3 separate regions of the Homo sapiens genome follow, and all the other regions are linked to region 3. The links come from fine-mapping of genetic effects on gene expression. A gene starts in region 3. Each other region holds a variant in brackets. All regions are shown on one strand. Distances are from middle to middle. Region 1 has its middle 91 kb from the start of PNPT1. Region 2 has its middle 28 kb from the start of PNPT1. Region 3 holds the start of EFEMP1 (EGF containing fibulin extracellular matrix protein 1).

What was found. PIP is the estimated chance that this variant, and not a neighbour inherited with it, causes the effect.
Region 1: its variant is fine-mapped to the expression of EFEMP1 in thyroid (GTEx, PIP above 0.99).
Region 2: its variant is fine-mapped to the expression of EFEMP1 in fibroblasts (GTEx, PIP 0.98).

What each region holds. Positions count from the first base shown.
Region 1 is chr2:55,780,677-55,788,864 of GRCh38, reverse strand. No RefSeq gene overlaps it. Among named protein-coding and RNA genes, the nearest start is that of PNPT1, 91 kb to the right of the region's middle. The variant G/A (reference allele first, on the strand shown) is at 4,893.
Region 2 is chr2:55,717,387-55,725,574 of GRCh38, reverse strand. No RefSeq gene overlaps it. Among named protein-coding and RNA genes, the nearest start is that of PNPT1, 28 kb to the right of the region's middle. RefSeq lists an enhancer at 1,500-2,001. The variant T/A (reference allele first, on the strand shown) is at 3,494.
Region 3 is chr2:55,919,788-55,927,975 of GRCh38, reverse strand. It overlaps EFEMP1 (EGF containing fibulin extracellular matrix protein 1), which reads left to right and starts at 4,194. Exons shown (of 12, transcript NM_001039348.3): 1 at 4,194-4,265; 2 at 5,037-5,077; 3 at 5,529-5,616. The coding sequence starts at 5,536. RefSeq lists an enhancer at 4,135-4,634.

The DNA of each region.
Region 1 (8,188 bases), 140 kb after region 3:
CCATCAGAGATATGCAAATCAAAACCACAATGAGATACCATCTCACACCAGTTAGAATGGCGATCATTAAAAAGTCAGGAAACAACAGGTGCTGGAGAGGATGTGGAGAAATAGGAACACTTTTACACTGTTGGTGGGACTGTAAACTTGTTCAACCATTGTGGAAGACAGTGTGGCGATTCCTCAGGGATCTAGAACTAGAAATACCATTTGATCCAGCCATCCCATTACTGGGTATATACCCAAAGGATGATAAATCATGCTGCTATAAAGACACATGCACACCTATGTTTATTGCGGCACTATTCACAATAGCAGAGACTTGGAACCAACCCAAATGTCTAACAATGATAGACTGGATTAAGAAAATGTGGCACATACACACCGTGGAATACTATGCAGCCATAAAAAAGGATGAGTTCATGTCCTTTGTAGGGACATGGATGAAGCTGGAAACCATCATTCTCAGCAAACTATCGCAAGGACAAAAAACCAAACACCGCATGTTCTCACTCATCGGTGGGAATCGAACAATGAGAACACATGGACACAGGAAGGGGAACATCACACTCTGGGGCCTGTTGTGGGGTGGGGGAAGGGGGAGGGATAGCATTAGGAGATATATGTAATGCTAAATGACGAGTTAGTGGGTACAGCACACCAGCATGGCACATGTATACATATGTAACTAACCTGCACATTGTGCACATGTACCCTAAAACTTAAAGTATAATAATAATAAAATAAAATAAAATAAAGAGAATTCTCAAGATGGTATCAAAGCGAAGACCTAATAAACATGTGTAGCAGGTTCAAAAAGCAACCAATCCTAATCGAAACACAAGTACAAAAGGTAAGAATAAACTCCTCCTAAATGGAATGTGCAGATTATCTTACAAATTTTACCATGTAGAAAGCTGTAATGAGAACTACTTTACAAAGAAGTTTGTAGTTTCCAAAAATATAAAAACCAGGCAAGTGAAAAAATAAAAAAATTATTAACTCCAAGAAAACAGAAATTGTATAAGAAATTGAATTATAGCATAAATTATATACTACATATACATATATACTATGCTTTAGCTTGTTTAAACTTTACATAGTATATACAGTATAAACTATACATAGTTTATATTATAATATATATATGGTACAAACTGTATGCACATATTATGACTAAGTAGTATAAATATATAGTATAAACTATATAGATAATACATATAGCACAAATTATATACATACTATATAGTATATATAATTATATATACTCAGTACAAACCATATATTATATATATTCCCACATACAAACTATGTACATATTTAACTACAAAATGGTTATAATAAATTGATGAGTATAGATTCAACCAAAATTTATGATGGTACTATTTCACAAAGAATGGATTCAAGAAAAGAGCTATAAAAAGGCCAAAATAAATAATGCTTTAAAAAGGCAATAGCAGTATTCGCACAGTGTTTTGATATTAGAAGTGGTGAAGATTTTGAAAATGTTTACCTGAGGGAGGTAGGAGTATTCAGAAGGACGAGGCAATTTGAGGTGGAGGGATTAAGAGAATATTGGTTTTTGCTGTAAGCCTCTTAGCATTATTTGACTTTTTAAACTTGTACTCGTTACTTTGATGTTTAAAAAAAAGGAAAATATTAATTTTTTTATAAAATGAAAGAAAGAAGGGAGGAAGGAATGAAGTTATTTCCTTAAAGTAGATTTATGTGCATGCTGTAATACTATAAAAATATTTATACAACCATAGTTCTAGAGACTACAACTGTAGAAAAAAAGCAACTGCCCCAACTCTTCATTTTTTACAACATTCACCTTTAGACTTAAGTATTCAAGTTTAACCCAAGTGATTATATTAAGTCCAAAAACACCGGTTCGTGATTAGTAGGAAGGAACTCTGGCCTGACAGGCTTTAGTTACAATTACTTCTCATACCCTCTCCTATGTGTTTCATGAGGGTTTGGGTCACATTCTTCCAAAGGGATCAAGGATATAGGACACATCTAACTGCTCTGGCAATCCTCACAGTGCTCTATACATAGCAGATAATTCAAAATTTTAATTACAGGTGCAAGAGGGCTCAGACTATTTAATGCGGACGGGAAGATGGAAATTAGTACCTTATTCATAGGGATACAAGAAGAGAATACATCATTCAGATAATATCATTGTAAGCATTCCCAAGGATAAATATGCATGTTCATTACTGTGTAATCCTAGGAGCAAAACAAACCCTCTGTTACATAACTCTTATTTTACCTTTCTTAATCTTTGAGTAATTAACATGGAAAAAAAAGTTGTTTTCTGGGCTACTCCACAGACAAATAGTTTCCCAGCAGAAAGAGACAAGCAAATAAGCCTGAGCATGTGATGGACTTGGAAAGCAATGAATCTTAACAAATTTGCAGTTGAATTATTGAACTGTTAAGACTGCAGAGTTAAACAGAAAAGATCTGGATGAATAAATGGGGTTTTGTTACCTTTGTTTCTTTGCTTATTTTATTTGTTGAGCTGTTTGTTGCCATGAGCACCAAAAATTATGACATTGCCATTCACATTGAATATTTTTATTTGGAAAATAAGGTTTCACTTACATAGTTGAGGTTCATCAACCACATGAACTGAGAGTGGGAGGTTTACACACACATACACCATAGATTTATTTGCTAAACCACTGATCCTTGTTTATTTTTAGATGAACTACAAAATGGTAGTTCTTCAGTTTAGCGAGTATTTTCTTTGACTCGTTCAACAAATATTTTTTGAGTATCTACCATGTGCTGCGTGCTACTACATACTATATGATCTAGGCCCTGCGCAAGGTGCTAGAAATAGGTGCAGGGAAAAACAGAGTATTTACAATCTAGTGGGTTGGTGGTACAGTTAAGCAATTAAACAAGCAATTATAATAAGACAAGTTAAATGCTTGGAACACATATAGCAGACACACTCAATATATCCTGGGGTTCATGGGTGGGGAGGGCTTAGTCAGCGAAGCTTCCCAATTGAAGTGACATTGAGTGGCACTTGAGGAATGACTAGGAGTTATTCATGCCAAGAAGGATGGAGAAGAGGCAATGAGGCTGAGGAAGGCCAGATACCAAGGAGAGCAGTGAGGAGGCCAGTGCAATAATGGAGAGGAGAGACAATGGTGGCCTGGACTTGGGAAATGGCAGTGGTGTTAGAGAAAAAGAGATGGGTCTGAGAGCCATTAAGGAGGCACAATTGTCAGGATTCCATGACTTACTGGATGTGAGAGATGAGGGAGAAGGAAACACAGCTGCAGGTTTCTGATTTGGACAACTGGGTGCATGGTGGGTGTTATTCACTGAGCCATCACTTACAAGGGGAGCAGGTTGAGGGGGGCAGATGATGAGTTCAGTTCTGAATATGTTCAGTTTGAGGTACATGGCAGGCATCGAACTGGAGATTTCTATCACGTAATTGGACTATAGGGTCTGAGCTGCAGATATAGATTTGGAAGATAATGATCTCAGAGCAGATAGTTGAAGCCATGGCTTTTGATCCGATTATCCAGAGAAAGTCTACAGACTGAGAAAAGCAGAGGTCAGAAAACAGACCCTGTAGTCTACTGACCTTTAGGGAACAAGCCAAGGGAAGAGATTAAAAAGAAGCCTGAGAGGCCCGACACAGTGGCTCATGCCTGTAATCCCAGCACTTTGGGAGGGTGAGGCAGGTAGATCACTTGAGGTCAGGAGTTCGAGATCAGCCTGGCCAATGTGGTGAAACCCCATCTCTACGTGCCACCATGCCCAACTTATTTACAAATTAAACTGGTGAAAGACAGACAAACAGGAGAGCAAAAGCATATGAATTGTATTTGATGCGTAGCTTTTATATGACACAGGGATCTTCCTACCAAAAAAGTGAAGAACGAAGAAGCAAACTCTCTCAGACGAGAGTTTATATACCGTTTTTAACAACAACAAGAAAGATAAATTGCAGAGATGGCACAAGACAAAGGAAGAAAGTTTTTAGGCTTCTAAGGGCTGCAAACTGGGGAGGTAAATATATAGAGAAAACTAATGGAAAATAAGGGCTATCTTATCAAGCTTTGTTTGTGCAGGTCCATCTTGGTGCCAACTTGCCGTCTTCCTCACAGTCATAAAATTTGCCCAAGAAAGGGGATTTATGGCAATCCTCAGTTCTCAGAAGTTTCTGCTTTTAGTCAGATAATGGGAACTCTAGAAGGACTTCATTTTGCATCTGTTGATTCTCCATTTTCTTCAGCTGAAAATGATCCCTGTGCCAAACTGGCATATTTTGGGTTGGCATAGTCTAATCCCCTTCAGTGGTAAAGTGTCACACACCACAGAGAGATCAATTCAATTCAAAAAATATTTATTGAGCACCAACTATGTGCCAGGCATGTGCTAGTGGGTAATGAGGATAGAGTAGTGAAAAACAGAAGCCCGGTCATTATCATCAAAAAAAGAGAAAAACGGCCATGAAATTTGGGATTGTGGAGAACATTTGCAATTTGCAGTAGCAGTTTCAATGGAGGGGAAGGTGAGAGGCTAGGTTATAGTGGACTGAGGTGAGACTCAGAAGTGAGGAAGGGCACTGGAAAATGGAGACAACTCTTTCAAGAAGTGTGACCATACAGGAGAAAAGAATAATGAACAGCAACTTTAAAGAAGATGGGGAGCCAAGGATGAGGGGTTATTTTGTTGACTTTGTTTGTTTCATATTATTTGAGAATATTGAACATGCTTATATGCAAAAATAAATGTGCCACAGAGAAAAACAGGTTAATACTACAGAAAAAAGGAGGTAGGCCGGGCCCTGTGGCTCACGCCTGTAATCCCAGAACTTTGGCAGGCCGAGGCAAGAGGATCACCTGAGGTCAGAA[G/A]TTCAAGACAAGCCTGGCCAACATGGAGAAACACCATCTTTACTAAAAATACAAAAACTAGCCAGGCATGATGGCAGGCACCTGTAATCCCAGCTACTTGAGAGGCTGAGGCAGAGAGAATTGCTTGAACCTGGGAGGCGGAGGTTGCAGTGAGTGGAGATCACGCCACTGTACTCCAGCCTGGGTGACAGAGCTAGACACCCTCTCAAAAAAAAAAGAAAGAAAGAAAGTGAAAAAGAAAGAAGTAGTTTATGAAGATGATTTCTGAGGGAAAACAATGAGACATGGGTAGGGAAATATGTAGTTCACCTTGCAAGTCTTACCTGTGTCATCTCCTCTCCTGTCCTAGCCTCATCCCAGCTCTGGAGGGAGCATTCAGCTATATAAACACCACCCCACTTCATTCCTGTAATCCCTGACCAAGAGCTTTAAATACCTAAACCCTAGGAATTTGGAAATAATTGGTAGAACTCTAATGCCTCAGAGCCAAAGCTTGGGCATTTCAAAAGGCTATCAAAAGCAGCCTTTCTTTCTCATCCTCACCAACCTCTGAACTAGAGAGCGATCAGATCACCTTTCTGCCCCCTTCTACCCAGCCTCTGGTAATGGTGGAGAAGTTCCTCTGTTTTTCTCAAATCCCCAGACACTAGTATAAAGAGAGGGGCAGGAGGGTGAGGAGAGACTCCTGCCTTATATCCCAGGTACCTGATCAGGTACACACACATACATACATACATACATACATACACACATACACACACACACACACATCTCTGCAAACTTATGCCTTGGGCCTGGATCCTACCCTATTCCTCATCCTGGCATAAGCCTGCTTTGCCTTGTTCCATCAGCATTTCTATTCTGCAATTTAAAATTATTTCCTATGCCAATCCTCCTGAAGGAGGCTCCCCTTGGCCCTCCAATACCAGCTTGGAGCTGGACCAAATTTCTGTCACTCCTGCTTGACTTCATCTACCTTCCTGTAATCTCCCCATCCCCAGCTCATGCTCTCCTGGGTTCACAACATGCCTTGAGGTCAGTGCTGTCAGCACCTCCCAAGGGATGTCAGGGTTGATAAGGAAATTTGCAAGGCCTTGACTCTGAAGTCAAAAACACAAAACATATTTAAGTGAAATCGCCTCCTTTTGCTAGCCTAAAATCTAGATTTTTACATGTTTTTGAGGAACACAAAAGTGTTTCTGTGGGCAGTATTGAGCAGGGACTTAATTAATTATTAACGGGTATAAAGGAAAGAACACTGAATCAACCACAATTCAGGTTCCCACTTGCTTTTTTTTTTTTTTTTTTTTGAGACAGTGTCTTGCTCTGTTGCCCAGGCTGGAGTGCAGTGGTATCTCGGCTCAGCACAACCTCTGCCTCCCATGTTCAAGTGATTCTCCTGCCTTAGCCTCCTGAGTAGCTGGGACTACAGGCGCAGGCCCCCAGGCCCAGCTAATTTTTGTATTTTTAGTAGAGACAGGGTTTCACTATGTTGGCCAGGCTGGTCTCCAACTTCTGACCTCGTAATCTGCCCACCTCAGCCTCCCAAAGTGCTGGGATTACAGGCATGAGCCACCACACCCGGCTAGCATTTCTTAATTCTGTGAGTTTTGGCAAATGTTCAAGGTCTCTTAGTCTTACTTTTCTTATCTGCGAAATGGGGATGATTATAGCTATGTTCTAAACACCTTATGAATGATCTCATGTAATCCTCACAACAACCTGGCAAGATAGGTTCTATTGTTAACAATACTTGATGATCAAGGTTTAAACCAGCTAGTCTTATTCCAGCGCCTGCCCCACTAACCACTGTGCTCTACTGAGCTAATAATATCTTCCCTCCCACTTTCAGGGATATCAAGAAGAGCACATGAAATAATGTGTAAGAAAACACTTGGTAGATTTGCTTAATGGGTACAAAGTTACAATTTGGTAAGACAATAAGAGTTCTAGAGATGGATGGTGGTGATGGTTGCCAACAATGTGAATGTACTTCATACTACTGAACTATATGCTTAAAAATGGTTAAAGTGGTAACTTTTATGTTATATGTATTGTACATTAAATTTGTAATTTCAAAAATACTTGATAATTATAAAGTGCTGTAGGAATGCAAACTATTAGAGATAGTTTTAATTCTTTTTCATTTATAAACTAGCAGGTTCCTCAAAAGATTTTATCTGACTCACTATTAATCCTCTGAATGTCTAGAAGAGATGATGGAAAAAGAGGACCCCTAGTGTAAAATGACAGCATCTGTACTCAGCAGCTTCAGTGGCGGAACAGAAATGAAGAGGGTAAAATGAGTCCAGGGCAGAGCCTGATTGCAAATACATTCCCTGGCCACCTTCTGCATTGTCCAGTGGGTCACTTCCAAGAGGAAAGATTATTGCTGAGGTTCAAGAAACCACATCAGTGTAAGCTGGGTTGCTAATCTGTTCATTTGTGTCCATACCTTTTCAGGCTGAGGCTGAGGGCATCACCAATGATTTTCAGTATCACATGTGAGTCGCTCCTTGCAGTGTGCACATTTCCCACCCTTGCCTCTACTGCAATGGGCCCTTATATAATTTATTATATTTATGTTATTATATTCCCTGTAATGGCCTTCCTTTTCCTTGTAATGTCTTTCCTTTCTCCTAAAAACAAATTTTAATAAAAAATATATATTCATTATAGAAAATTTAGAAAATATAAAAATCAATTGCCCTTGGCTAAGTATTAGATTTTGCCCAATAATTCAAAAAAAAAGTTTTCTGATTCTCTCCAGGGAATTTTTTAAAAGTGAAACTCTGTCTTATTTTAAGGAGGCATTAAGTTCCAAAAATTTCCTTAAAGGTTTATTATCTGGCACTCTGGTTGCATTCTCCCTTTAAAATAATGTCATGAGGGGATATTAGGTTTCCAGATCAGACCACAAAATCCTCCTTGATGTATAATGGAGCTGAACTCTAGCTTGGTGAAGCTAGAACACCAAGCCACCAGCCTCTAGGCTCCCACTAGGAGGCAGGGACTTTGCCAGCTATTTCTGAATTTTGGCATTGTCACCCATTGGACACCAAACAACAGTGATCTCTAACTTCAACTTGCCACAGACAGGAACTGACTTTGTGGGTACCTCCTCCCTCAAATAGCACTAACAAAAGCACCCAAGCTTTCCATAGTCGGAAGGAAGATGAAACTGCCTAGTTAAAGAAGGGGACAGTAACCTTTAGTGCAAAAAGGTCATTGGTAAAGTGACTGCCCACAAATTAGGGAGCTGCTTTCTAGAATATGTTGAAGAACTATCTCAGCAT
Region 2 (8,188 bases), 200 kb after region 3:
CTACCTCTAGTTCTCTTTAGTTATATGAACTAATAAATGCCCTAATACAAGCCAGTTTTAGTTGGGTTTTCCAGGACTTGCAAAGGATGCTGTTACAGAATTTCTTTGAGGGGGACTCAGTGTCCCCAAATGTGACTTCCCAGCTACGCTGGTCTCTGCTCATTTGCTCATGTAGCAGCCCTTTAGCCTTGCACTCTTATTCTCACCCATCCTTCATGGCACCATTAGAGCCTCACCTTTTCCAGTCAGGCAACCAGTGCAAGAGGGTCTCTAGGTAATCTAAAGCCATACATTACCTTTGCTGTCACTTTGATTCATGTGGCACTTGTCATATGCTGCCCTATCTTTAATGAGTGTACGTTTATCTAGAGTGTCACCACCTTGAAAGCAGGGAACTGTGTGTGTGTGTGTGTGTGTGTGTGTGTGTGTGTGTGTGTGAGAGAGAGAGAGAGAGATAGGATCATACTCCATCATCCAGGCTGGAGTGCAGTGGATGATCATGGCTCACTGCAGCCTCGACCTCTTGGGTTCAAGCAATCCTCCCACCTCAGCCTCCTGAGTAGCCAAGACTACAGGTATATACCACCAAGCCCAGCTAATTTTTTGTATATTTTGTACAGACAGGGTTTTACCCTGTTGTGCAGGCTGGTCTCGAATTCCTAGACTCAAGTGATCCAGCTGCCTCAGCCTCCCTAAGTGTTAGGATTACAGGTGTGCGCCACTGTACCTGGCCAGGACCATTTTTTATATACTCTTTCATTCCTATGGTATTTGCCATGGAAGGTACTAATTGAATACTGACTGTTTGATTGAATCTAATGGTCTATCAGTCAGGATGTCTTAGCATCCCGGCAGGTCAGATGCCAACACATCTGCTGGGGCAAAAGGAAAACTCAGAAGAAAAGAGGAGGTTACCTTTTTTTTTTGGCCCATGTTTCCTTAATTTCATCACTTGGATATGCAATAATTTTTAAAATGCTACTTGGTTCCTGATAATATCATCCCATAAGACTTTCTGCATATTTGAAAAGGATGCAAAGCTATACATAAATATTGGTTATTATATTTATATACAGAGAGAGAGGCATATGTAATGTCTATTCTACACAACCTGAATTCAGTAGAGTGCAAGTATAAAGTATCCTTTTTTCCCCCAATTACTACCTTAACCATGCTCCACTGAACCTCCCTTTCTCACCGCTTAACAACATTCTGCGCAGCTCTCTCACAGCTTTGAAATGAAGAAGTCCAATCCTCCCTTCCTGTAGATAGCTCAGGCATTTGTGGCCAGGACCTGAAATGGAAAAGGAGTACAGTCTCCACCTTCATTCCCTCTTGAGTTGTGGGCTTTGGGGGTGGTGGCTTGTAGTAGATGCAGAGATAGAAAGGAACAGTGTCTCATTCAGTGCTGCAGCTGTGGTCTTCTCTTGGCTGGTGATGTCGATTAGTCTCTGTGTGGTGGGTGTCCCAACACTGGCTCTTCCATGGGCTACATTGGGGACTTGCAGGAGTCTCCCCAGGGCAGAGTTTCCTGCTGTGGGAGCACCCTCCACCCAGCTCCTCTACTACACCCTCAGTTGCTTCCCCTGGCATTCCCCCCAACTCCTTTTGAGTAGAGTACTGGCAGGTCAAATCAAGTCCGGCTACTTCCATGGTGGCTTCTTGACCCCTGGAATACCCATACAGCACTGTCATAGCACCAGATGGGTGCAGCCTGCTCCACTGCCTCACTTCTCTCTGCTTCATTATCTCAATTCTCCATTCCCTTACTCTCACAGGCACTGAGGTCAGATCAGCTGGTGTGAGCTAAGAAATAAGATGTCATTCTTCTCATTTAATCCCACTCTCTGTAGATGGTCCTCAGGGCACCCAGTCTTTGGCTTCAAAGCAGGAGCCACTGTACTTTTCACCAAAGACTTGACACTCTCATCACATGCCTGTCTTCCCTGTCTAGTCAAAAGTGTAGATGGATTGGGCATAAGAAGTGGTTGAGTCTCAGACGATGATTAGGGGAATGCCCAGTCAGTTTGCCTGACTCTTACTAAACCTGGAGGAGGTACTTGGCCTGCAATACTCAGAATGTGAGATTCTTGGTGCCTCTTTGTCCTTAGCTTTGGATCCAAGTCACCAATTGCCCACTCCACATTCTGAGACACATCTCAGAGAAAAGGAAGCTAGTGTGGTGAAAAGAACTGGATTCTTGCCTCTGCTCATCAGTGTCAGCTAGCACAGTACTACTATGGGAGTCTTTAATTCTCCATGTCCATAATATCTCATCTGTAAAATGAGAATACTATAATACTATTTACTTAACCAATCAACATCATACATACACAATGTGATACTATCCTAAATACATAAAATCATATTGATTTTATTTAATATTTAGGTTGTGTCTATAGAAGAGCATCCAGGAAAAAAAGTCAGTTATGCCAGTTTCTTAGCACAGATTTATAATGCTAGCTTGTCACATATTATGTAAGAGGTAATAAGAATATTCTGCGGATTAAATGTGATCATGCATGAGGAAGGCTTGGCATCGAGTAAGTGCTCAATTAATATTATCCATCATTATTATGTTTATCTCTGTGACCTTAGGTAAGTCATTTAAGTCCTCTGAGTCTCCACTTCCTCATTTTAAATTGAGGGTAATAATAGAGTTCTCAGGATTCTATGAAATCATGTTATCTGGAAGCAATTGTAAATTTCTTTGTAAATGTTAGATATTATCTATGAAACAAGGACAATGAACTTTTAAAGTATTTTCCTCTTCTAAAATGCTATGTGTTTACTAATTGGTGTTACAAAGAAAGAAAAGAAAAATGTTTCTTTTTCAGTAGAGTGTGTTGGAGTTATTAAAAGATAAAATCAGCAAACACTGCCTCATTTTATCCATGAACTCACAAATTTTCACAGATAGTAAGAGACTGGTCTTTCTTTCTACCATACTTTCAATTCTTATCTGTTCTCCAAGATGTTTTATGTCCTCAATGTATATACATTTCAAGCACCATCATATAACCTAAAACAGAAAGGAAATTATTTAAGATACAATGGAAAACTACAGAATCAATCAAAAAAACTTAGTTATAGGGGTTACTTATTCTAATTCTTGGCATCCAAGACCTTGGTGGAAAACTTTCTTTCATCCAACCTTTAAATATGAATATTAATCATATCACAAAGATATTAGCTCCATTTTGGAAATTCCAAATTTTACCATATTCCTTTCTTGTTGAATAAGGTATAGAGTATATTCAAAAACTAGGGTTTGGGTGGGTTCAGTGGCCCAGGCTTGTAATCCCAACATTTTGGGAGGCCAAGACTGGAGGATCACTTGATCCCAGGAGTTCAAGACAAGCCTGGGTAACATAGCAAGATCCGGTCTTTATTAATAAATAAATAAATATAAATAAGAAAAATTTTAAAGTTGACCATTTATAATTCTATATATGTAATGTGATACCAAGTGCTATTATGGTCTTTGAATGCA[T/A]TGTGAAATAATTGAGTCAACCCAGCTAACATATACATCACCCCACATATTTAACATTTCTTGGGGTGAGATCATTTGCAATGTACACTGTTAGCAATTTTGAAATGTACAATGTTCTATTATTAACTATATTCATCATGATGCGCAATAGATCTCAAAAATAAACATATTCCTGCAGTGTAAAAAAGAAGAAAAAAGAATAACACACTACTGTTACAGGCAACAAAATGGATGAATAACTTTGAGTAAAAGAAGCCAAGCATAAACGGTTACAACACAGTGTATGGCTTCATTTGTAAAGGCTTAAAACCAGAAAAACGAGTCTCTGACGACAGAAGTCAGAATAAAGGTTTTCTTCCTGGGGTGATATCTGGAAAGGCATAGGGGGAGGGGCTTCTAAATACTGGGCATGTTCTATTTTTTTATCTTACTGTTGATTACATTAGGCCTATTTCATTTGTGAACATCCCTCAAAATGCTGATGATTTAAGCACTCTTTTGTATGTACACTATACATCAGTAAAAAGCTTACTTTATTAAAAAAAGAAAAAATTTAAAACTAAGGTTTGTTCTTAAAATAATCTATGTAATTTACATTCATTGGCTAGTCTGTCAAAAAATATCTTGACTACCTCAGCACAATGAAATTTGAAAGAAACATAAATCTAAGTTTCTATTGTCACAACATATCATAATTATTTATTGCAATCTTTACAAAATGGAAACAAACTCTACAATGTCTGCCCTTAAGAAATAAAGTAGTAGTTAATGTATTTTGGCTAGTAAAGACATTTAGACTCACAATTATTTCTAATTATTAAGCTTTGAAACGGGAGATTGTCTTGGAAACAATCAATTTTAAGTTTCAAAGTTAGTGCCTCAGTGCAAATTTAATTAGCAAGTGGCTCCATTTATCTATAAAGCAAAATATCTTTTGAACAACCTTCTCTACATATTTTTATGGACCTTTGCAGTTGAGAAGGGCTTTGTCATGCACTTTTTTATTTAATGTGTGAGATTCTTTGGGAGAGAAGCAGAGTAACTAAGGAAAATGACGCTCAGTCACTTGCTCGAGATCAGAGGAACTGGTAAAGCAAAAAGCGGGACGCGGTTTTCTTTAGTTCCAGAACAGGAATCCTTCCGCCATAACAGGCTGCTTCAGACATCCATGGAGTTATCTGAAATCCTGAGAGAACACCTCATCTATCCCCGGACATCCACCAGTTAAAATCACGCCCAAAATAAATAAATAATAAAATAAAATCATGTCCAGTGCGGAAAAAATGCTTACAAAATTCTTCATTTACTTATTCACTCATTCAAAAATGATTTGTTGCGGGCACTCTATGTGTCCAGCATTGTGCTGGCACTTGGCATCCGGTTGTGAGTAAATCAGACACAGCTCCTACTCTCCCAGAGCTTGCAGTTCAGCCACGGACAGAGACAACTCACACCATCACATAGGTAAATGTATAATTACAGACCATGAGGAACGCTGTCCAGAGTGAGCACAGCACGCTTTGAAAGCGTCTAGCAGGGAGACCTCACCTTATCTGAAGCATCCGGGTGGGCTGGGATGGGAGGAAAGGGTAGGGAAAGAAGGAGCAACCAAAGCCAGAGAAAGCCGTGCCCGGCCAAGAGAATCGCATCTAAAGAAGCCCTGAGGCAGCAAGGAAAATTGAACGTGAGTTATGATAGCAATTTTATATAAGCAGAGGGGGGAAAGTCTAGCAGGAAATACTCCAAAACATTAATGATGCTTTCTTCTGGAGAAGGACTGGTGATGTTCATTTCCTTGTTTATGCTTTATTGAATATTGCAGATTTTCTGCAATAAAAGTATAAGCTTTGTGATCTGGAGGGGAAAAGAATAAAAAATCTGGCTCAAAAGACCCCTGTGTGAGAAAAGGAGGGAAAATAGAACCCTCTCCCAACCACTCCAGATATCCAGGAGCTGGAGTGTGAAGCTGGAAGTAAACAGTACAAGAACATAATTCACTGTGATTATTTTTTATTTTTTATTTTTTTATTTTATTTTTATTATTTCATTTTATTTATTTATTTATTTATTTATTTATTTATTGCTTAGGCTGGAGCACAGTGGCAACAATCATAGCTCACTGCAGCCTTGAAAACCGGGGCCCAAGCAATGCTCCCATCTTGACCTCCCAATGTCCTGGGATTACAGGCATAAGCCACCAGTCCCAGCCCACTCTGACAATTTAAAAGGGTCCTGAATACTCAAAAGGTACAAAGCTTTGCAAGAAAGGGAACTAATGTGTATCTAGCCCTATCATGTGGCTAGAACTACCCTATAACTACAGCATTTCCTGGAACAGTAATATACAGATAATGGTGCCTTATTTCCACAATTTACCTTCTGATTGTATTCCTTTCTCTCACACTAACTCTGTTAGATGATTATTATCACCCATATTTTACAAATGAGAAAGAAAGTGAAATTTAAAGAGAGGTTAAGTAACTTGCTCACAGTCAGTCCTATTAGGCGGGAGAGCTGGGATTAAAAGAAAATCCCAGGCTAGGGTGCAATGGCACAATCTCGGCTCACTGCAACCTCCACCCCCTACCCCAATAGGTTCAAGCGATTCTCCTGCCTCAGCCTCCCAAGTAGCTGGGATTACAAGCACTTGCCATCATGCCTGGCTAATCTTTTATATTTTTAGTAGAGATGGGGTTTCACCATGTTGGCAAGGTTGGTCTCAAACTCCAGATCTCAGGTGATCCACCCACCTCGGCCTCCCAAAGTGCAAGGATTACAGGCGTGAACCACTGCACCTGGCCATAAATTCTTAACTGACTCTCATGGTGCCGTCTATATGTGAATGGTCTATGGACTGGTGCCCCTGCTGAGACTGGTGAAAGACAAGTTCTCTTTAGAAACTTGAAGCAGGTAGAAAACCACCTTGACCCTGACTGCCATTTGCCTAAGGGTCTGAGACCTAGCCTGGAGGGAGTCTGTTCCTGATTCTTAGAGAGGGCACCAACCGATAAAACCTGAGCTCTGATTGCCCAAAAGCAGTTTGCCCTGTAAAAACCAAGTATCTAGCTTAGTGGGTCTCAAACGGTAGCATTCATCAGAATCACTCAGAGAAATTGTTCAAATACAGACCAATAGGTCCACCCTCAGAAGTTCTAATTCAATAGGTCTGGGGTGGGGCCCAAGAATTTGCATTCTAACAAGTTCCCAGGTGATGCTGACGTTGCTTGGTGGGGGGGCTGCCACTTTGAGAACCATTCGCATAGTCTAATGTAAGGCAGGACTCACAAGAGTGTCAGCGCCTTGCACCACATTCTGAAACTGAGAGTTTATCTCACCCTGGCCAACCCACCCCACCTCCACCTTCTATAAAGTGGTTCTAGAGTAGGTAAATAATGGAGAAGAAACCGTGCCTCTCAAACCTGCGATGAACCAGGACCAGAAATGTTTGCTGGAAAACAAAAACAATTGATTTGGGGGATGGTGGAAGTTTATTTTTTATTTTTTATTTTTGGAGGGAGTTTTGATTGCTGTCATTTGGGTAATTATTTTTAATATGAACCCCAAAGCTTTAAAATGTTGTTGCTACATTAATCCTAAAATGTTAGTTAAGTTCACCCACAAATATAAAACTTAAAATTCCATTTTACAGTTTGAGTTACAAAGGAGGTCGCAAAAACCTGAAGAGGTGAATTAAGCAACACCTGAGCGCCCTCTAGTGGGAAATGAATTCTCCTAGTGTCCAAAGGCTGCCAGTATGCTGAACAATAAATGAGATTTCCATTATTTTCTTTTAACTCTTTGAAGCTGGCGAATGGTTTGTGCATTAAAAACAAATATGAAGAAAAATGGAAGAAAGCTAAATTTTAGATCGTGTAAATATCTGTTACTCTTCGAATTTTCACCCACTAGTTTAAGCATCCATTGATGATTCTTGCTTGCCTCAATCAATTATTTATGATGGCAGAAAGTATCTTTACTTACATTATAGAATCCAAAGCACTTTAACAATCTATTAATTTATTAATATAGAATTCTAGTGAACTCTTGAGATTACCTCAAGTTGTAAATATTATGCTGGTCTCGTTTGAAAACACATAAGACTTTTGTAGAAATCACTGGTCTTGTGGCTGGGCACGGTGGCTCATGCCTGTAATTCCAGCACTTTGGGAGGCCAAAGAGGGTGGATCACCTGAGGTCAGGAGTTCGAGACCAGCCTGGCCAACATAGCGAAACTCTGTCTCTACTAAAATACAAAAAGGTAGCCAGTGTGGTGGCGGGCACCTGTAATCGCAGCTACTCAGGAGACTGAAGCAGGAGAATCACTTGAACTTGGAAGGCGGAGGGTGCAGTGAACCAAGATCGTGCCATTGCACACCAGCCTGGGCAACAAGAGCAAAACTCCATCTCAAAAAAAAAAAAAAAAGAAAAGAAAAGAAAGAAAGAAAAAGAAAGAACTGGCCTTGTTTCCATTTACTTGACATTTCGTAAAGCTAACTTTTGCACTTTGTAAAGTGTCTTGACCCACTACATGGATCTCTCTGGATTCAAATTAGTACAGCACGTACCTAAATGTTCAGAGCCAGATCTAGGGGTTCAGTATAAACCTGTTTTTCTATTAGACGCCTTTATTTCTATAGAGGCAGTACCATCTTCTCAATCCCTTGTAATCCAACCATCTTTAACCTTTGACCTGAG
Region 3 (8,188 bases):
TTTAAAATGTTTGCTCTCAAGAGACAGCATTAACAAATTGGAAAGACAAGACAAAGACTAGAAAGAATGTTCGAAAAATGTAAATCTGAAGAGGACTTGCAGGAAGACTATTTTTAAAAACTCTTACAACTAATAAGACCAAAAAATAAAGAAATGAACACAAATTTGAAATAAAATATATTGATGGACAATAAGCATACGAAAAGCAAAATTCAACATCACTGGACATCAGAGAAATGTAAAATAAAACCACAGTGAAATACCACTTACACACCCACCAGAATGGCTAACATTGTAAATTACTGACAATACCAGAAGTTGGCAAGGATTTCAGGCAAATTGAATCTCACATATTGCTGGTAAGAACATAAAATAACACACTCACTTTATAAAACAGTTTGACACTTTCTTATACTGTTAAACATACCCCTACCATATGACAGCAATTTCACTCCTAAGCGTTTATCTAAAAGAAAACATATCCCAGCAAAGACTTAGAAGTGAATGTCCGTAACAGATTTATTCATAAACAATCCAAGTATCTATTAAGATGTAAACAAACAAATCAGGGTATATACATACAATGGAATACTACTCAGCAATAAAAAGGAATGTGTTTCTCATACACCTAATAACAAGGATGCATCTCAAGCAACATGCTGAGTGAAGGAAGTCAGACCCGAAAGAGTATTTACTCTATGATTTCATTCATATGAACTCCCACTGCAAAAAGGCTGCAGGAGAACAAGGTTGTAAACAAGGAGACCAATTAGGAGGATGTTGCAATAATACAGTTGGAAAATGGTGGTGGCTTAGACCAGAGTGGTTGCAAAAGAGGTGATGAGAAGTGGTTCCATTCTGGATATATCATGAAGGTGAAGCCAACAGAATTTCCTGAAGGATAGAATGCAGGATATCTCAGAAAAAGAGAAATCAAGGATGACTCCATGGTCCTGAATCTGAGCAAATAGAAAGATGAAACTGCTTTAACTGAGATGGTGAAGGTGGGTGGAGTAGGTTGGGGGATGATAACAGCAGTTGTGTTCAGTTTGAAACATCCATTAGATGTCCAAATGAAGATAGCAAGTTGGCAGCTGGATATATAGGAACAGTTCCAGGCTGGAGATATAAATTTGAGAGTTTTCACCCCATTTTTCTGGAAAAGTGGCTGGGAACAGGTAGAAAGAGTTTAAGAGAAACAGGAAAAACCATGTGCACAGATCTTCTTACTGTACAAAAAGTAAAGATCCATTTAAAAAAAATCTGGAGGTCATTAATGACTTGGGGGAAAACACTAGAATTTTGATAGTAAAAATATTTGATACAATTACCAAAACTCTGTATACTCAAGTAAGGTTTAGGGAGGGTTGTACACCTCCCCTCTGATCTTGTCCAATACTGTGTGGCTTGCTACCAAACTGGCAATGTCTAGGTAACCCACACTGGATACCCCAGAGATAAAGAGAGCAGCTTCCACCTGATAACCTCCCTCTCCTGCAGTCGCTACCACCCTCCCACCTTGAGTCAGCAGGAAAGGAAAGGAGCTTTTCCTCTCCTCCTGAGCTCTGCCTCCTGCTCAAGGACAGAGTCAAAGTTTTAACCCCTTCAGTTTGTAAGTTTTCTCATTCATGAAATTGTATTTGGCCATTTGCTTCTTAGAAGACAGCTGCCTTGGAAGCAAGCTATTAGTATGACTTTAGAGTTGGAGCCTTCAGAGGTAACTGCAATTTGTGTGGTATGATTTGATAAAAACAGAAAAAAAGATTTTTCTCTCCAGATTCCTGAAATTCCACTATGAAAGGTGAAAGTGAAATGCCCAACTTTGAATGAGCAGTATTGGAGATTTCACTAAGTCAATAAGTGAAGAAAAGAGAAGCTATAGATGAAAAAAGAAACCCATAAAAAGGGAGACTTTTTATTATATATTGACAAATTATAGTTGTATATATTAATAGGGTACAAGGTGTTATGATTTTTTAATACAATGTGTAATAATTAAACCAAGCTAATTAATATATCCATCACCTCAAATATTTGACATTTTTTGTGATGAGAACATTTGAAATTTACTCTCTTAGTGATAATGAAATATACAGTACTCAATTATCAGCTTTATTCACGACACCGTGCAATTGAACTTTAAAAAAATCAAACTTTTCCTCTCTTTTTTTTTTAGATGGAGTCTCACTCTGTCACTCAGAGGGATGATCTCAGCTCACTGCAACCTCTGCCTTCCGGGGTTCAAGCGATCATCCTGCCTCAGCCTCCCGAGTAGCTGGGATTACAGGCACGTGTCTAATTTTTGTATTTTTAGTAGAGATGGGGTTTCTCCATGTTGGCCAGGCTGGTCTTGAACTCCTGACCTCAGGTGATCTGCCCACCTTGGCTGCCCAAAGTGCTGGGATTACAGGCATGAGCCACTGCACCCAACCCTTATTCATCCTATCTAATTGAGGCTTACACTCTTTGACTGTTATCTCTCCATTCCCTGCAACCCTAGCCTCTGGTAACCACCATTCTACTCTCTGCTTCTATGAGTTCAATTGTTTTAAGTTACTTTCAGATACTTGAGAACATGTGGTATTTGTGTTTCTACATTTGGCTTATTTCACTGTGCATAATGTTTTCCACTTCCATCCATGGTGTCACAAATGACAGAATTTCTTTTTTAAGGCTAAATAGTATTCCACACATACACACAGACACATAAAATGGAATACTATTCTCTTTTAAATTTTGTATGCCTAATAATTCATGGTTAAAGGACAAGATAATAACTATTTTTGAGTATCCCGCTGTGGAGACACGATCTCCTTTGATCCTTGCAGCAATGTGTAAGGTAAGTGGCATCATCTTCCTTCTATTAATGGTAGAACTGAAGATCAAAGAGAGTGTCTAACTTGCTTAGGGCTACATAGCCAAGTGGTGAAGCTAAACTCAGTCTAGGCTTACTTGATAGTACACTAACATTAAATGTCTAGGAGTAAATATCTAAAACAAACTGTAAGTCTTCTCTATTTACCATACAAATTATTCAAGTGAACTGCCATTTTTGCCTGGCTTGAAAGATACTTTTCAGAAGAATGGGCTCATATACACATGCACGCGCGCACACACACACACACAATGGAATACTATTTAGCCTTAAAAACGCATATATATCTAAAATATATGTGTGTACATATTTTATATATATATGTGTTTATATATATAATATATATTATATTTGTATACACACACACATATATGCCACATTTTCTTTATCCATTTATCCCTTGATGGACACTTAGGTTGATTCCATATCTTGGCAATTGTGAATAGTGCTGCAATAAACATGAAAGTACAGACGTCTCTTCAACACACTGATTTCAAATCTTCCCAGTAAATACCCAGAAATGAGATTGCTGGATCATATGATAATTCTACTTTCAGTTTTTTGAGAAACCTCCATACAATTTTCCATCATGTTTGTACTAATTTACATTCCACCAACAGCATACAAGCATTCCCTTTTCTCCATTCTTGCCAACACTTGTTATCATAAAGGGAGGTTTGAGAGACCATAAAACAAACCCCACCTCACAATTTTGTTAGTGCAAGTTCTATTTGGCCTATTCCCAACACTAAGCACACAGTAGGTGGCAAATATTTGTTGAATGGATGAATTCTCATTTTTCTCCATTTGTGGAAGCAGACACCTCCTCAAAAAAAAAAAAAAATCCGAAAGAAAAGGTAAAGGAAACAGTTCTATGAATGGGGGTTAATTTACTCTCCTAGCATTCACTTATTGGGAAAAAAAGTAACAGCAGTTTCTAGAACCCTCTGGTCTCTGAGGGAGATGCTGTGTTCCCCTCCTCAGAGAAGAAGAAAACGCACTAGAGAGTGGGAGCATCCCCAAGGCTGAAGCGCATCCAGGACATCACATGTCAACGTGTCCTCTCTGGCGTGGGGTCCCCGCGAGTCTGGGAAACGAGGAGCTGGCAAGGGAGGGCAAGCGGGGGCGGCAAAGAGGGCCCCTGGAGCAGGGGGCGCGGACCTCGCTGCGCTGCGCGCTCTACCGCCGGGCTCGCAACGCTGGGCTCAGCGCTCGCGCCTCCCTCAGCTCTCTCCTCCGCCCCCCTTCGCCCTCCCCCTTTCCCTCCCTTTCTCCTCCTCCTCCTGCCGCCGCGGCCGCTGCCGGACTTCGCCAGATCAGACCCACGGGGCTGCCCTCCCCTGCGCACTCCCCTCGCTGCCCGGGCCCGGAGCGCAGCGCGGCCGCACAGGTAGGAGCCCCCAACGGGGGGTCGCCCCGAGCGAGCCCAGTACTCACTGGGCCGCGCGCGGGAGAGTGAGGTGGGGTGAGCTGAGGGGTGTTGAGTACCCGAGAACTGCCCTGGACTGTGCAGGGTGTCTCGGGCAGAGAGGGAGGTGGAGGTGTGCAGCCTCGGAATGCGATCTGTCAGCAAGTGCGAGTACTCGGGTGACATCTGTTGGGATGGGCATGTGTGTGCGCGCCGACAACCAGCCGGCAGGGCTTTGCCCATAAACGTGGTTTTGAAAGTTTAGGGGACCAGTGTGCGAGATTTAAGCCGCACCTGGATTCCATAGGAGCTGGTTAGAAGCTGGGACGCTGAGCAGCTCCAGGGGACCGCCGCGTTAGCTTGCTGTTAAGAAAGGGGACCTCATCTCCCTGCCGGGCCAGGCCGCCCGCCCGAAACTGGTACCTTGGGCTGCGGTGCGATCCCTGGTTCCGGTCCTAGGCAGCCTGAAACCGAAGGTAGCGTGTCGGGGACCCAGACTGATAAGACAAAAGAGAATCAGTCGCTTTGGGCTGCCCCTCCACACAACCTGGGACTTTTAAACAAAGCTGTGCGCAGAGAAAGGCGTGGAAATGCCACTTTGAGAGTTTGTGCTGGGGGATGTGAGAAGCTCTGAGACATGTGAGAAGGTCTAGTATTCTACTAGAACTGGAAGATTGCTCTCCGAGTTTTGTTTTGTTATTTTGTTTAAAAAATAAAAAGCTTGAGGCCAAGGCAATTCATATTGGCTCACAGGTATTTTTGCTGTGCTGTGCAAGGAACTCTGCTAGCTCAAGGTGAGTATACTGGGAAAGCCTTAACGTTCTAGAGAACAGAGTTTTGCAGCCCCACCTCCATCCCCCGGGGTGTGGGACTGGGGGGCAGGAAATGCACCGTCCCCTTTGAAATGGATTACTGTTTTTTCCTTTCGACCCCCTCTTTCTGCAGCCTGCTTTGTAGGTGCAGTATAAAATGCACGCTGAATGTCTTTTGTATGTAAACAGCGTAGCAGGATGGAGTAACGTGAAATGCAATTCTACAGCAGTTTTTACGTCTTTGCTGCCTCGTTCGTTGGCTACCGAGAAGGTTCAGGAGGGGGAGGGGAGATGAGAAAGCAGATTGGAAGTTGAGTATGGTGGAGCCTCAGCCTCTCCCACCCTCCTTTCCTCGCTTGTGCTCACTGCTAAAGTTTTGTTACTTTCCCCGCAGCAGATACTAAACATTAGTTTGTCCTGTATTTTCTTTGAGATTCACAATGTTGAAAGCCCTTTTCCTAACTATGCTGACTCTGGCGCTGGTCAAGTCACAGGACACCGAAGAAACCATCACGTACACGGTAAGGGGTGATGGAATTTGAAATAAGTACGGTTCAGCGGGATTCTGTGACAAAAAAAGACTTTACACACCCCTGCCAGTGTATTTGGGCTATACTCTGCTGAGGGTGATAAATTAAACAACACTTCATTCATGCTTCATATCTAAGATTCGTTGTAAATTGCCCCCTTGATCCTTTCAAAAGTTCATTGGGCTCACCACCTAAGATAGGAACCAACATGTAATCATTTGTGCAGGGCTAAAAATGGGATCCGTTCAAAAACTAAAACCAAAGAAAGTTACATGTTTCCAAAACATTCAACAAATTAATGGGTGTAAGGAACTGGAAAACCTGGACTCCTACCACATGCAGATAAAACCAATACGTGCAGAATAAGACTCAAGTCAAGTAAGAACGTTAAACACCATAAAGACACATGGCCTTCTTTGTGTACATGACATGCATTCTCAAGTAAGTGGCCTTTATTGAATTTATAAAGGCTATATATTCATTCTTTTTGTATAACTTGATAATTCTAATAAATAAAGGCAGACAACAGTTTATGTGTTACCAGGATGCATATTGGCTAAAGTGGTTTTAAAACGTAATGTGTGCAACTCCGTTTTGCATTTTCTAATTAGCGTCTCTGATATTTCCAAGTAATATTTGATTAGTTAGTTGCATAGGTGTAACCAATGTTTAATAAAATATTAAAAAGATCACCTGACCCCTCCCACTGCTACAAATAGTTGTGGTGAGAACAGAGAAGGACAGTACTGACTTCACTTCTGGTGAGTTTGTTTGCACCTCTGTTCTGTGTTTTCTTGTCTTTAATCAGTGTTAGGCAAATGACATTTGTCCTGGATTGGAATATGAAAAGCACATTTTTCTACTGCTCCCAGTTTAAAATTAAGTAATCCTACTCGAAAGAATGTGAAAAATTTTTGAAAAGAAAACTCTTAAAAATGAACTAATGTCAATTACTGATAATAAACATTATCTCACTTTTTGGTACCACATTATCCCTAGAATGTTAGTATTCATCTGGCAAATGTTCCTTTCTGTTGTTCAGATCCACTATAAATAAAATAGCTTAATACAAATATTTTGTTAACTTCATGTTAAATGCAGTTGCTTCCTCTGCTGAAGATAAATTAAGCAAGAAAAATGAAGGCATGTGCTGTTTATCTTAAAATGAAAATGTTTTGTTATTCAGACTAAACTTACTGCCTTCTCAGGGAGCTAAAATTAAATTCACTACCCACTTTTATAATCATCTCATAAAAGATTTTACTTCTTTTCCAGTTGCTTATCTTCTATGCCCTTCCCTTTGCTAATCACCTAAATCTTCCTCATTTTTACCAGAGAAGGTTCCCTGTGGCTTAAACATGATAGTTTTAAGACCACTAACTAGGGTTCATTATTATTGTAACAAATTTTCCAGATATGTTACCCTTTTGTGCTAAGATTGGGCCTATTCTCCTTTAAATTTTGTATGCCTAATAATTCATGGTTAAAGGACAAGATAATAACTATTTCTGAGTATCCCGCTGTGGAGACACGATCTCCTTTGATCCTTGCGGCAATGTGTAAGGTAAGTGGCATCATCTTCCTTCCACTAATGGTAGAACTGAAGATCAGAGAGAGTGTCTAACTTGCTTAGGGCTACATAGCCAAGTGGTGAAGCTAAACTCAGTCTAGGCTTACTTAATAGTACACTGACATTAAATGTCTAGAAGTAAATACCTAAAACAAATTGCAAGTCTTCTCTATTTACCATACAAATTATTCAAGTGAACTGCCATTTTTGCCTGGCTTGAAAGATACTTTTCAGAAGAATGGGCTCGTATCCACATAATAGCCTCATAGTCCTCTTCCATATTAAAGATGGTGTCCATTCAGCTGTTTACTCAACAACTATCTGCATAAGCAATTCTCATCACTATTAAAAGAATTTGTTTGTTTACTAAGAAAATTCAGTCTCCTCTTGGAGAATTTAGCCTGGGAAGACAGTGTTGAAAACTACAAAGTTCCTAAGCAAGGACAAATGATACTATTATACAGATTATACAAATTGCCAAGGAAATAGAAAAGCAAGGAGGTGATTAATGTTGGTGCCAGCATATTAGAGGAGACAGAACTCTGTGCTGGTTCTTGAAGGAAGTGATGACCTTGGTTGGATTGATCTAGAAAGGCTGAAGAGGCACCTGAGTCAGAGAGTGGCATAATCAAAAGCTAGAGCTGAAAGCACCTGAGACCAATCCAGGTGGTGATAAGGTCAGATCAGCTGGAACTGGGTAGTGGGAAGAACCCAGAGATGGTGATGATGAGAGATCTGCAGGTCACTGTGAGGTCTCAGAGAGAGGAGCAACATAACCAAGAGCACAAGAAAGATCATGGGGTCTGTATGCAGCATGTAGAGATGCGGGGCCTTGCCTACTCATGGGCCAGCAAAAGCCTTTCTTAGTAGACATGGTAGAAATGGACACAAAGTCAGCAGAGATGGAAGGAAAATAAGTGGAGCATTCAGCACTGATGTTAAAGTTGGAATCCTGGGTTTCGAAAAAGGTAGTGGTACCTTTAACACTGTTTG